2 separate regions of the Homo sapiens genome follow, and region 2 is linked to region 1. The links come from fine-mapping of genetic effects on gene expression. Tissue or cell type: whole blood. Region 1 holds a variant in brackets; the other region holds the start of a gene. All regions are shown on one strand. Distances are from middle to middle.

The links. PIP is the estimated chance that this variant, and not a neighbour inherited with it, causes the effect.
Region 2: TCF25 starts here. The variant in region 1 is fine-mapped to the expression of TCF25 in whole blood (INTERVAL, PIP above 0.99). The same link has a PIP of 0.9 or more in monocytes after LPS.

The regions. Positions count from the first base shown.
Region 1 is chr16:89,891,362-89,897,008 of GRCh38, reverse strand. TCF25 (TCF25 ribosome quality control complex subunit) reads right to left here. Exons shown (of 18, transcript NM_014972.3): 6 at 4,734-4,816; 7 at 3,151-3,281; 8 at 1,872-1,971; 9 at 926-1,019. Among named protein-coding and RNA genes, the nearest start is that of TCF25, 21 kb to the right of the region's middle. The variant T/C (reference allele first, on the strand shown) is at 2,621.
Region 2 is chr16:89,871,218-89,876,536 of GRCh38, reverse strand. It overlaps TCF25 (TCF25 ribosome quality control complex subunit), which reads right to left and starts at 2,945. Exons shown (of 18, transcript NM_014972.3): 1 at 2,678-2,945. The coding sequence starts at 2,869. SPIRE2 (spire type actin nucleation factor 2) reads right to left here. Exons shown (of 15, transcript NM_032451.2): 15 at 5,218-5,319. It overlaps LOC112268179 (a long non-coding RNA gene), which reads left to right and starts at 3,049. Exons shown (of 2, transcript XR_002957933.2): 1 at 3,049-3,569; 2 at 4,616-5,319. RefSeq lists silencers at 2,161-2,630, 3,101-3,220 and enhancers at 3,301-3,460, 3,231-4,187.

The DNA.
Region 1 (5,647 bases):
GCTGCCCAGGCTGGAGTGCACTGGTACCATCTCAGCTCACTGCAGCCTCGACCTCCTGGGCTCACTTGAGTGATACTCTCGCCTCAACCTCCCAAGTAGCTGGGACCACAGGCACGCGCCACCAGGCGCAGCTAGTTTTTAAAATGTTCTGTAGTGGCCGGGCGCGGTGGCTCACGCCTGTAATCCCAGCATTTTGGAAGGCCGAGGCGGGTGGATCGCAAGGTCAGGAGATGGAGACCATCCTGGCCAACACAGTGAAACCTCGTCTCTACTAGAAAATACAAAAAATTAGCCAGGCGTTGTGGCACGTGCCTGTAGGCCCAGCTACTCGGGAGCCTGAGGCAGGAGAATGGCTTGAACCCGGGAGGTGGAGCTTGCAGTGAGCCGAGATCGCGCCCCTGCACTCCGGCCTGGGTGACAGAGTGAGACTCCGTCTCAAAAAAAAAAAAAAAAAAAAAATGCTGTTTTGAGACTGCATGTTGCCACGGTGCTCAGACTGGTCTTGACACCTGGGCTCAAGCAACCCTCCCACCTCGGCCTCCCAAAGTGCTGGGATTACAGGCGTGAACCACTGTGCCCAGCCAGGCTCACTTCTAACACAAACATTTATTTTTATTTTTATTTTTTTAAGAGATGGGGGTCTCACTATGGTGCCCAGGCTGGACTTGAACTCCTGGGCTCAGCAGACCTCCCACTCTGACCTCCACAGTAGCATCAGGCATGTCCACAGACAAAGGTAAACCTGGGCTGAGACAATCCCATCCCTCTATCCTTAAGCCCAGAGAGAGGAAGGTGGGTCACTCTGGACCTGTGGGCCCTGGTCCACCCTGGAGGGCAGCCATGAGGTGCCCACTGCACCTCCCCCAGCCTCACTCGCAGGAGAAGGGAAGGGGAGCTGCGTCACCTCCAGGGCAGCTGCACTCACCTGTTCTCGGGTCTGCGGTAATCCAGCCGGCAGGCCCCACTGGTGAGACTGAACAGGGGGTGGAACGCACATTCCATGCTGTACAGCGCTCTCTCTGTGGGCACAGGGACGCCAGGGGAGGGTGTCATGGCCACACACAGCAACCACGGCCCCTCCTCTGATAATGGACAACAAGGAAAGGTCTGGACGGAAGGTCACGAAACTAGAGTCCTGGACACTGAGAGGGCAGACATGCCCCTGGGCACCCTGGATGCCACGCTGCATTTATTTCAACCACAGAACTTGTGAGCTTGACATGGTAACACTTTCAACACCATGAGGCACAACTGCTGCCACGTCCTGACAGAACCAGGCGTCCATGTGTGCAGCACAGATGTGTCCACCTAAGACTGCGTGTGCATGCTGACGTAAGCACTATTATTTACAACAGCCCACACGGCCGTCAACTAATGATGGATACACAACATGTGGTCCGTCCACACAGTGGAGTATTACTAAGCCATAAAAACGAACGACGTTCTGATCGACGCTACAGTGAGGATGAACCTTGAAAACTTCATTGTAAATAAAAGCCAGAGGGCGGGGCGTGGTGGCTCATGCCTGTAATCCCAGCACTTTGGGAGGCTGAGGTGGGTGGATCACAAGGTCAGGAGATCGAGACCATCCTGGCCAACACGGTGAAACCCCATCTCTACTAAAAATACAAAAAATTAGCCAGGTCTGGTGGCGGGCGCCTGTAGTCCCAGCTACTCGGGAGGCTGTGGCATATATTAAACACCAACAAACAAAAACTTTAAATGGGTAAGTTTTGTGCTACGTAGGTTGTATCTCAATAAAGCTGTCATGGATATCCTGGCAACCCCTGTCATCTTACACCATCGCATCTGTCTTGATAGCTTGAGGTGCTCCCACAGCTGAGGGGAATGGGGTGGGGGCTCTGCCTTACCTACGAGGTCTCGAGCCATCTCCTGATCCTCTTGAAAGCGGCAGGCATCGCTGAGCTGCAGGAGTGAGTCAACGTGGTAAGGGCTCGTCTGGAGCAGAACCTACCAGAAGGGAGGACAGCCCTGGAGGAAAGGCACTCAGCAAGGCCCCAGCTCCCAGGCATGCCTTTTTTTCAGACATTTAAAACCAGCGGAGGCTGGGCGCAGTGGCTCACGCCTGTAATCCCACCACTTTGGGAGGCTGAGGCAGGAGGATCACTTGATATCAGGAGTTCAAGACCAGCCTGGCCAACGTGGCAAAACCTGGTCTCTAATAAAAATACAAAAATTAGCCGGGTGTGGTGGCGTGTGCCTGTAATTCCAGTTACTCGGAAGGCTGAGGCAGGCGAATCGCTTGAACCCGGGCCGAGACTGCGCCAATGCACTCTAGCTTAGGCGACAGAGTGAGATTCCGACTCCAAAAACAAAAACAAAAACGGGGGAATTACCGGGTCGACACTCACAACGTCCCCCCAACTCAAAATAGGCTAGTTATTATTGCTAAGCTGAACCAATTATATGACTTAAAGCAAGAACTCAGAACCTGACATGCCCAGGCCAGGGGCCACCTAACTCCCCACTAAGCCCCAAGAAAGAGGAATGGAAAGCAGCAGCCTGCTTTTCCCACAGGGAGATGACGGGGAGCTCTGCGGAGGCTGTCCGGGGTTGCAAGGGGAGCTGTCCGGCGGCTGCGTGAGGGCCGCCCGGGGGC[T/C]GTCTGGGGCTGCGCGGGGGCCGTCCGGGGCTGCAAGGGGAGCTGTCCAGGGGCTGCATGAGGGCTGTCCAGGGTTGCACCGGGGCTGTACGGGGACTGTCCAGGTCCGGGGCTGTCTGGGGCTGCGCGGGGGCCGTCCGGGGCCGTGTGGGGGCCGTCCGGGGGCTGCACGGGGGCCGGGAATCTGAGCTGCTCGCCTGCACTGAGCCGCAGGAGGCAAGGGCAGCAGTGAGAAGCCCCAGAGTCCTGGGCCTGCATCACACGGCACTACTGCGACGGTCCCCAGGAACGGCTGAGAGAGCAGCGCTCCAGCCTCTCCTCTGAGTATGGATGGAGCTCGCTTGGCCTAGAGCCTCCGAACACATCTCCTTCTGGTCACAGGGCCAGACCGCCCTGCAGAGACTGGCACCCTTCCTGTTGGGAAGGGCAGGAGGCAGCATGCCTCCCCCAGCCACCAGGGAAGCAGGCGGCCCAGGGCAGTGGTGGCTACATGGCCCCTGCTCCTGTCAGGGGCTGCAGGGACCACGCACCACGATGTTGTTCGGCTCCATAGACTCCACGGCCACCAGGAACTTGTGCTGAGCCTGCTGGTACTCCTCACTGTGCTCAAACGCAAAGAAGGAGAGGCCTTTTTTTGATTCCAGCAGCCGCATGGACAGACCTGGGAGGGGAGAGTGCTCAGGGAGGGTGTGCCGGGAGCAGGGACGTGGGCAGCTCCGAGCACAGCCCTCACCTTCGTGGTGTTCTGGATGAGGCCTCTGCGATATCGACAAACTTGACCTGAGTGTGTACTCATGGGTGTCACCAGCTCCGGACACCTTCCCAAAACACCCGCCGTCTGGTCTACACCAGGAGACGGCATCCCGTCTGCTTTAGTTTCCTATCAAGACGTGTTTGCCTCCAGAACTCGGATACAGCTCTAGCCCCACTGGCCTGGAGGGAATGTCAGGGACAAGGACACACACAGTCCACAGATCGCCAGATCTGACCACGCCGAGCACTGTCCCCAGACCACGTCTGATTGAGGAGAATGTCCGGGGTGGCTGTGGAAGGACAGGGTTGGAGTGCGGTGGCACAGGTGGCCACAGCGCCAGGCCTCTGAAGCCACAGAGCTTTGTAACGTGTGACCACCCTCTCACTTGGCTCCTCTTGTCTGACTGGGTGTATGGGACCCAGTTTCTTCTGATAAACCTGGAAAGCTCAGCCTCCCAGGACCTCCATGGACTAGGTCCCCTGTAGTGATACCTTCTTGATGGCCCTGCCCAAGGCCCCAGTCCTGCAGGAATACATGGCCATGGAACCCCTGTCTGCAGTGAGCAGGGGTTCCTGCCAGGAAGGGAAGGGGCCGTGAGCAGCGGGGTTCACCTTCTGACAGCACAGGCCTCGCTCCTAGATGTGTCCTTACAGAATGTATGCAGGCAATCTCCGGCACCCCCACAGACACAGGCGCAGGAGAAGCGGCCGTGGGAGCCATGGCAGCGCTGACAGCAGCAGCCATGCCGATCACCAAGGGCACCACACAGCTCCCTTCCCACAAGCTGTCCTTGCCCTGGCCCCTGAGGGCCCCCACAGTTCAGCCACTGCAGAGTGGAGGCCAGTGTGGAAGGCCTCCTGACACTTCCCCACACCACACAACCAAGCACCCAACACTCCATGCCTGTCTTCACTGTTGCAATTCATCTTAAAATCACTTATTAGTTTGCAATAATATACAAAATATTGCAGTTTAAAATGAACTCGATTGCTTCCATAAGGGAAAGGTCGATGGCAGAATGGTAGGAAGAACCTGCGTTAAAAGACAGTCACACAAAGACTGTGCCTGGGAGGCTCCGTGTTGAGGTACTGGGCCAGGCCTCCAGCACTCAGGCCCTCAGTGTGGCAACAAACAGTCACACACTGCACACTCCTGGAGCGCTCCTGGAGCAAAGAGTCTCGGCTCAAGAGGCACTGACGCCCCTGGTGCCCAGCGCAGGCCAGTGCACAGAACACACCCCCCCGCCGCCCTCCACCCCCAGCAGCCTCTGCAGACCCTCACCTGGTTTGCTGTACCGGGGCCAGTGCACAGACAACGCCCCCCAACCCTCCATCCCCAGCAGCATCTGCAGACCCTCACCTGGTTTGCTGTAGCGGGGCCAGGTGCTTTTAGGGGTGGTCAGCCATGTGCACTTGGGGTACACACGTTGTCTCTGCCGTGGCCTGGGGAGAACGGGACACAGGTACAGCTTTACTTCCTGTGGCGTGTGGGGACCAAGGCTTGGCTGCCTGATCCCTGCACGGGCTGTGGAAGCAAAACTGAGGGGCAGAGAAGGCATGTGGGGCAGGGTGGGGACGCATTAAGGACAGGATGCAAACAAGCGTCAGCAACTGCTGTGGGACGGGTGCAGCAGGGAGGGCCCCATAGAGAGAAAGAAACAATTCTGGCTGGGCACGGGGGCTCACACCTGTAATCCCAGCACTTTGAGAGGCCAAGATGGGAGAATTTCTTGAACCCAGGAGTTCGAGACTGGCCTGGGCAAGACAGCAAAACCCCATTTCTACAAAGGGTTTTAAAAATTAGCCTGGCGTGATGGCCTGCACCTGTGATCCCAGCACTCCAGCCTGGACGACAGAGCAAGGCCCTGTCTCAAGAGGAAAATAAAAAAAGAAAACGAAAAGAAAGAGAACAACGTACTAATATCCACATGCCCATCACTCAACTTAAGAAACCAACCATCTCTGAGGTAACAGCAGCTCCATGCCTTTTCCATGCTGCCCCACCTGCCCAGCTCAGATACCAGCTGACCAGTGCTTAGAGTGGGCCTGACCCCTGTGGCAGAGACCCCCAAATAACAGAGGTCAGGGCACTCTGCCTGAGCACACAGGCACCAGACAGGTGGGGCGTGGCAGCCGCGGCAGCACAGACAGCAGCAGCCATGCCCACGGTCACCATCAGCACGGTGCAGCTCCCTTCCCACGGGGCCATCCCTGCCCTGGCCCCGGGCTCCCCACAGTTCAGCCACCGCAGAGTGGAGGCCAGTGTGGTGGGCC
Region 2 (5,319 bases), 20 kb after region 1:
ATTCCAGCACTTTGGGAGGCCAAGGCGGAAGGATCTCTTGAGCCCAGGAGTTTAAGACCAACCTAGGCAACATAAAGAGATCTTGTCTCTAAATAAATAAAATTTTTTAAAAAGAGAAACACCATGTCTCTCACCAATGCATTCACATTCATAACCATTTAGTCGTAACTGGCTGTTTACTGTCTCCCATACTTCTGTTTATTAAGAGCTATTTAACAGAATGCCAATAAACATTTTGATTATATTATTTCCAAATATGAGTTTTAAGAGCAAAAAAGTATGGAATGCTTAAATTAAGACTGATGTGTGCCACTGGATAAAATTCTCTGAAATTCCTAAGAACACAGCACGATAAGCAGTCATTCATCCATGGAGGCTGTTAGTGTTACTGACACTCAAACTCACTCCAGAAAGTCCACAAGGGTTTGTGTGGTTTCTGACCTTACAGACTCTTACTCTGTCAACTCATGAACCACACTTTTTCCAAATTCCCACCAACACAAATATAAATACCAAAAAGATTAAATATTTAAATGGGAAAAAAAAAGCATTAAAAGAACAAGCTGAGCATGGTAGGGTATGCTGTAGTCCCAGCTGCTCAGGAGGCTGAGGCAGGAGGATAACCTGAACCCAGGAGTTCAAGACCAGCAACCAGCCTGGGCAACACCGTGAGACCCTGTCTGTAACCAAAAAAAAAAAAAAAAAAAAAAAAAAAAGCCAGGCGCAGTGGCTCACGCCTGTAATCCCAGCACTTTGGGAGGCCGAGGCAGGCGGATCACGAGGTCAGGAGATCGAGACCATCCTGGCTAACATGGTGAAACCCCATCTCTACTAAAAATACAAAAAATTAGCCAGGCGTGGTGGCGGGCGCCTGTGTTCCCAGCTACTTGGGAGGCTGAGGCAGGAGAATGGCGTGAACCCAGGAGGCGGAGCTTGCAGTGAGCCGAGATCATGCCACTGCACTCCAGCCTGGGCGACAGAGCGAGACTCCATCTCAAAAAAAAAAAAAAAAAAAAAAAAAAACTCACGTCAGGGAATATCTATGTGAAGACACTCTAGAGAGATGGATGTGTAACAATGAGAAAAGTGGCTCCAGTATCTTTCAGCACGCAGAAATTAAAGAAGTTAAAGAACAAACACAAACCGAGAAAATACGTTAGAGACAATCGATAGCAAGCTTCCACGAGCAAAAAGACTGTCCAAACCCCCTATAAAAAGGCAAAGATATAAACAGGTTGTCACAAAGAGAAATATAAATGGTCAACGAATACATAGCTAGGTGCTGCATTTCACTACCAAAGAAGTGTAAAATAAAATAATGTGATATCATTTTTCACAAATTACATTGACAAAAATTTAAAAAGACTTACGGGGCCAAGCACAGTGGCTCATGCCTCTAATGCCAACACTCTGAGAGGCCAAGGTGAGAGGACTATTTGAGCCCAGGAGTTCAAGGTTGCAGTGAGCTAGGATTGTGCCAATGCACTCCAGCCTGGGCAACAGAGCAAGATTCCATCTCAAAACAAAAAGCTTTCAGTAACTGCTGTGAATCTAGCAAATTACTGAACCTTGACGGGGGTCTTGGGGACCACTAAAGGTGGACTTGATGCGAGAAGGGCAGTCAACCAAGCATGGTGACTCACGCCTGTAGTCCCAGCACTTTGTGAGGCTGAGGTGGACAGATTGTTTGAGCGCAGAAGTTCTAGACCAGCCTGGGCAACAAGGCGAAAACTCTTCTCTACAAAAAAGAAAAAAAAAAAAAATTAGCCGGGCGTGGTGACATCCACCTGTAGTCCTAGATACTCAGGAGGCTGAGGTGGGAGGATCGCAGAGCCCGCAGAGGCAGAGTTACAGACGGAGGCCAGGGCTTAGGAGAAAACGTCACAGGACCGCATGAGCAAACCATACAGTCAAACTGTTACTTCCCTGTGCCAGAAACGAGCTGCCGGAGATGCAGCAAAGAGTAAGACTAATCCGCTGGGTTAGGCTGATGGGGATGCGCGAAGAGCAAGGCCCTGGGTTAGGCAGAGTTGTTGTGAGGATTAAAGCAGAATGCTCGCAGAGGCCTGGCAAGTCCTCAACCCTGGAACCGAGAGAAGGCCCCTCTAGACTCGAGAAAGGGAAGCCCCACCCGACTCCTGCCCCTACGCCGTGGCCCCACCCCCACGGTGGCCCCAGGCCTCATTTAACCCCGCCCACGCCATCGCCTCGCCACCCCCCCGTCTTTAGCCACGCCCTTTAGCGTCACGGCCCCACGACAGCCACGTGGCCGCAGGCCCATTTAATCCCGCCCACGTCGTGGCCCGGCCCCGCGGACGTTGGCCACGCCCTTGGCATCAAGGCCCCGCACCCTCCACAACCCGGACCCCGCTTAACCCCGCCCATTCGGTCGCCCCGCCCCGACAGCACGGCCCCGCCCCATCCCTTAGCCCCGCCCACCTCACCGGGGTTAGAACCCAGTCTAACTCCGCGGCCCGCCGTCTTCACCCCACGCCACCGCCCACCCGCGTCGCCCTGGCCCCGACGCACGGCCCCGCCCTCCCCACTGCGGCTGGGACCCACGTCACCCTTCCCACCCCTGGCATCACAACCCCGCTCCCCGACCCGGCTGGACGCTCGCCCCGCCCCACAACGTCAAGGGCCACCCCACCCCCACCCGGGCCGCCGCGCTCCTCACCAGCTCGAAGCGGTTGTTGACTCGGACGCCCTCCTTCCCTGCGCCCCCGGGACGCCGGACACCAAGCTCCCGCTTGGGCCCTTCTTCTTCCGCGTCATCGTCATCACGGAGATCGAAATGCAAGGCGCCGGGCCCGAGGGGCTCCTGGCCGCGCTGTTCCCCCCTCAGCCTCCGGAGGGCCCGGCGCGACATAGGACCGAACGACCACGACGTCTGGAGAGAGGGAGAAGGAAGCGCAGAAAACTCGGCTGTCGGCGCGCCTGCGCACTCTTCGCGCGGGGTCGGGGGCGGGGGAGCTGGCTGCGCGCCTGCGCACTCTTGGCGCGAGGGGTGGGGGCAGGACCTGGCTGCGGCGCCTGCGCGTCGCGGCTCTCCGGAACTTTCCCGCTTCAGCGGCGGCGTCTGGGCGGGCTCCGGGGGGTCCGGGCCAGGTCTCTGGAGAGCTGGGTGTCTGCGCGCCGTGCGCACCGGGCATGGAGAGGTGCCCCGCGGGGATGACGGGCTTCGATTCGGGGTAACGGGCGCGCAGCCGGCGACAGTCGGCCCTGCCCGGCCTTGCCCATCCATGTGGCCCGGAACCCGCAGCCGCGTTCTGCCCGCCGGGGCCTGTCCCCGCACCGTGCCTGCAGCATTTCAGCTGCGTCCCGGACGTTGCTAGTTGGTCCTTTTCGTGTCAGGGTGTCATTCGAGTGATCTAGCCGTCGATGCCCGCCTCTGCCCTGGAGCCGCCGCCCCTCGAGCAGCATTGAGTGACGCGGCCCTTACTGCCCGCCCGAGGCCTCTTTAGGGACAGTGGTTCTGACAGTTCTAGGACAGGCCGCCCGCGTTTGTCACGATCTAAGGGCCGGGCGCGGTGCTCACGCTTGTAATCCCAGCACTTTGGGAGGCCAAGGTGGGCGAATCACCTGAGGTCGGGAATTCGAGACCAGGTTGGGCAACACGGTGAAACTCCCTCTACTAAAAATACAAAAATTAGCTGGGCGTGGCTGCGCACGCCTGTAATCCCAGCTACTCGGGAGGCTGAGGCTGCAGTGAGCCGAGATCGCGCCACTGCACTCCAGCCTGGGCGACAGAGCCAGACCCTGTCTCAAAAAAATGAAAAAAATAAAGTAGATGAGGCTGAGACAGTGCTGGGTTCAGTGGGCGGAGGGCACAGCTTCCTGTGCCTGGGGTTGGGGACATGGGGACAGGAGGGCATAGAGAAGACAGGTGCCAGCAGCCTCCTGCCCGACTTACTGCGGCTTCATGAGCACAAGCAGCAGCCCTGGTGAGCCGGCCTGGCCCCTCCCAGGATGGGTTAGGGTTTTATTTTATTTTGTGAGATGAGGTCTTGCTCTGTTGCCCAGGCTGGAGTGCAGTGGCGCAATCTCGGCTCACTGCAACCTCCATCTCCCAGGCTCAAGCACTTCTCCTGTCTCAGCCTCCCGAGTAGCTGGGACTACAGGCATGTGCCACCATGCCCGGCTAATTTTTGTACTCAGTAGAGATGGGGTTTCACCATGTTGGCCAGGCTGGTCTCGAACTCCTGACCTCAAGTGATCTGCCCACCTCACCCTCCAAAAGTGCTGGGATTACAGGTGTGAGCCACTGCACCTGCCGTGGTTTAGGGTTTTAACGTGGGCTTTCATTTCCAAGTGTTCCTGTATGAATTACAACCCAGTCTCCCCATGATAGGGAGTGTGAGTCCCCGTAGAACCAGAACAACCGTCGTCCTTACCAAGCACTACACATTAGCTTATTGCTGGCTGTGTGACCGGAGGAGTTCCCTGACCCTCTCTGTGCCTGTTTTCTTATTTTTAAACAGGAATAAAAATACAGGCCAGAGAGTCCGTGAAATGCTTACACGCATGCTAGAAGCTGGCTGTTTTTACTGGGGGCTCTAATTTTGTGTGTTTGGATTTCCTGGACCCCAGCTGACAGGAGTATTTTCTCCCGCAGGCCCATCAGTTACAAGTCCTGTCCCTTCTGACCTCCAGGCCCCACGGCTAGCATTACAGCCTGGAGTCAAAGTTCTGGGTGAGCTGTGTATCTTTGGCCAAATTCTTTGACCTCGTTGAGCCTCAGTTCCCTCATCTGTAAGGTAAGATGACGGCAGAACGTCACGGAGGAGCAGGGCAGGGCCCCGTTAACAGGCTGAGCCGGGCGCAGGTGAGCAGACAGCACTCGGCACAGGGCCTGTCTAGAGCCTGCAGTCACACCTCCTGCCCCTGTGGATCCTCTCCCTGGAGAACGAGAATACGGATCTGGGAAATGAGACCAAAGTACCCCCCAGGCCAGCAGGTGTGGCCAGAGGAGCTGATGGGCAGTAGTCTGTGCCGTCCGCATGCAGCCCTGACCATGGTGGCCAGGACCACGAAGCTGGTAGAGGCAGCCAGGGCTGCGTGGACAGAGCAGGCCTGGAGCCCTTGCCTGGTGGGCACCTGACTCTAAGCCAGGAGGCCTTTCCTCGTCCTGGAAGGCAGGTGGCCCCTCAAGCCCAGCTTCAACCTTGGGAGAACATGCCATGCTGGGTGAATCCTCAGCGCACATCCCAGACAGAAGACTGTGAGACCTCCTTTATTAGGCCAAGAGTGGCCATGTGCACAGATTTACAGAGCTGCTCCTCCCTGTGCCAGGACCGCCCAGCATCTTCAGGAGCCTCT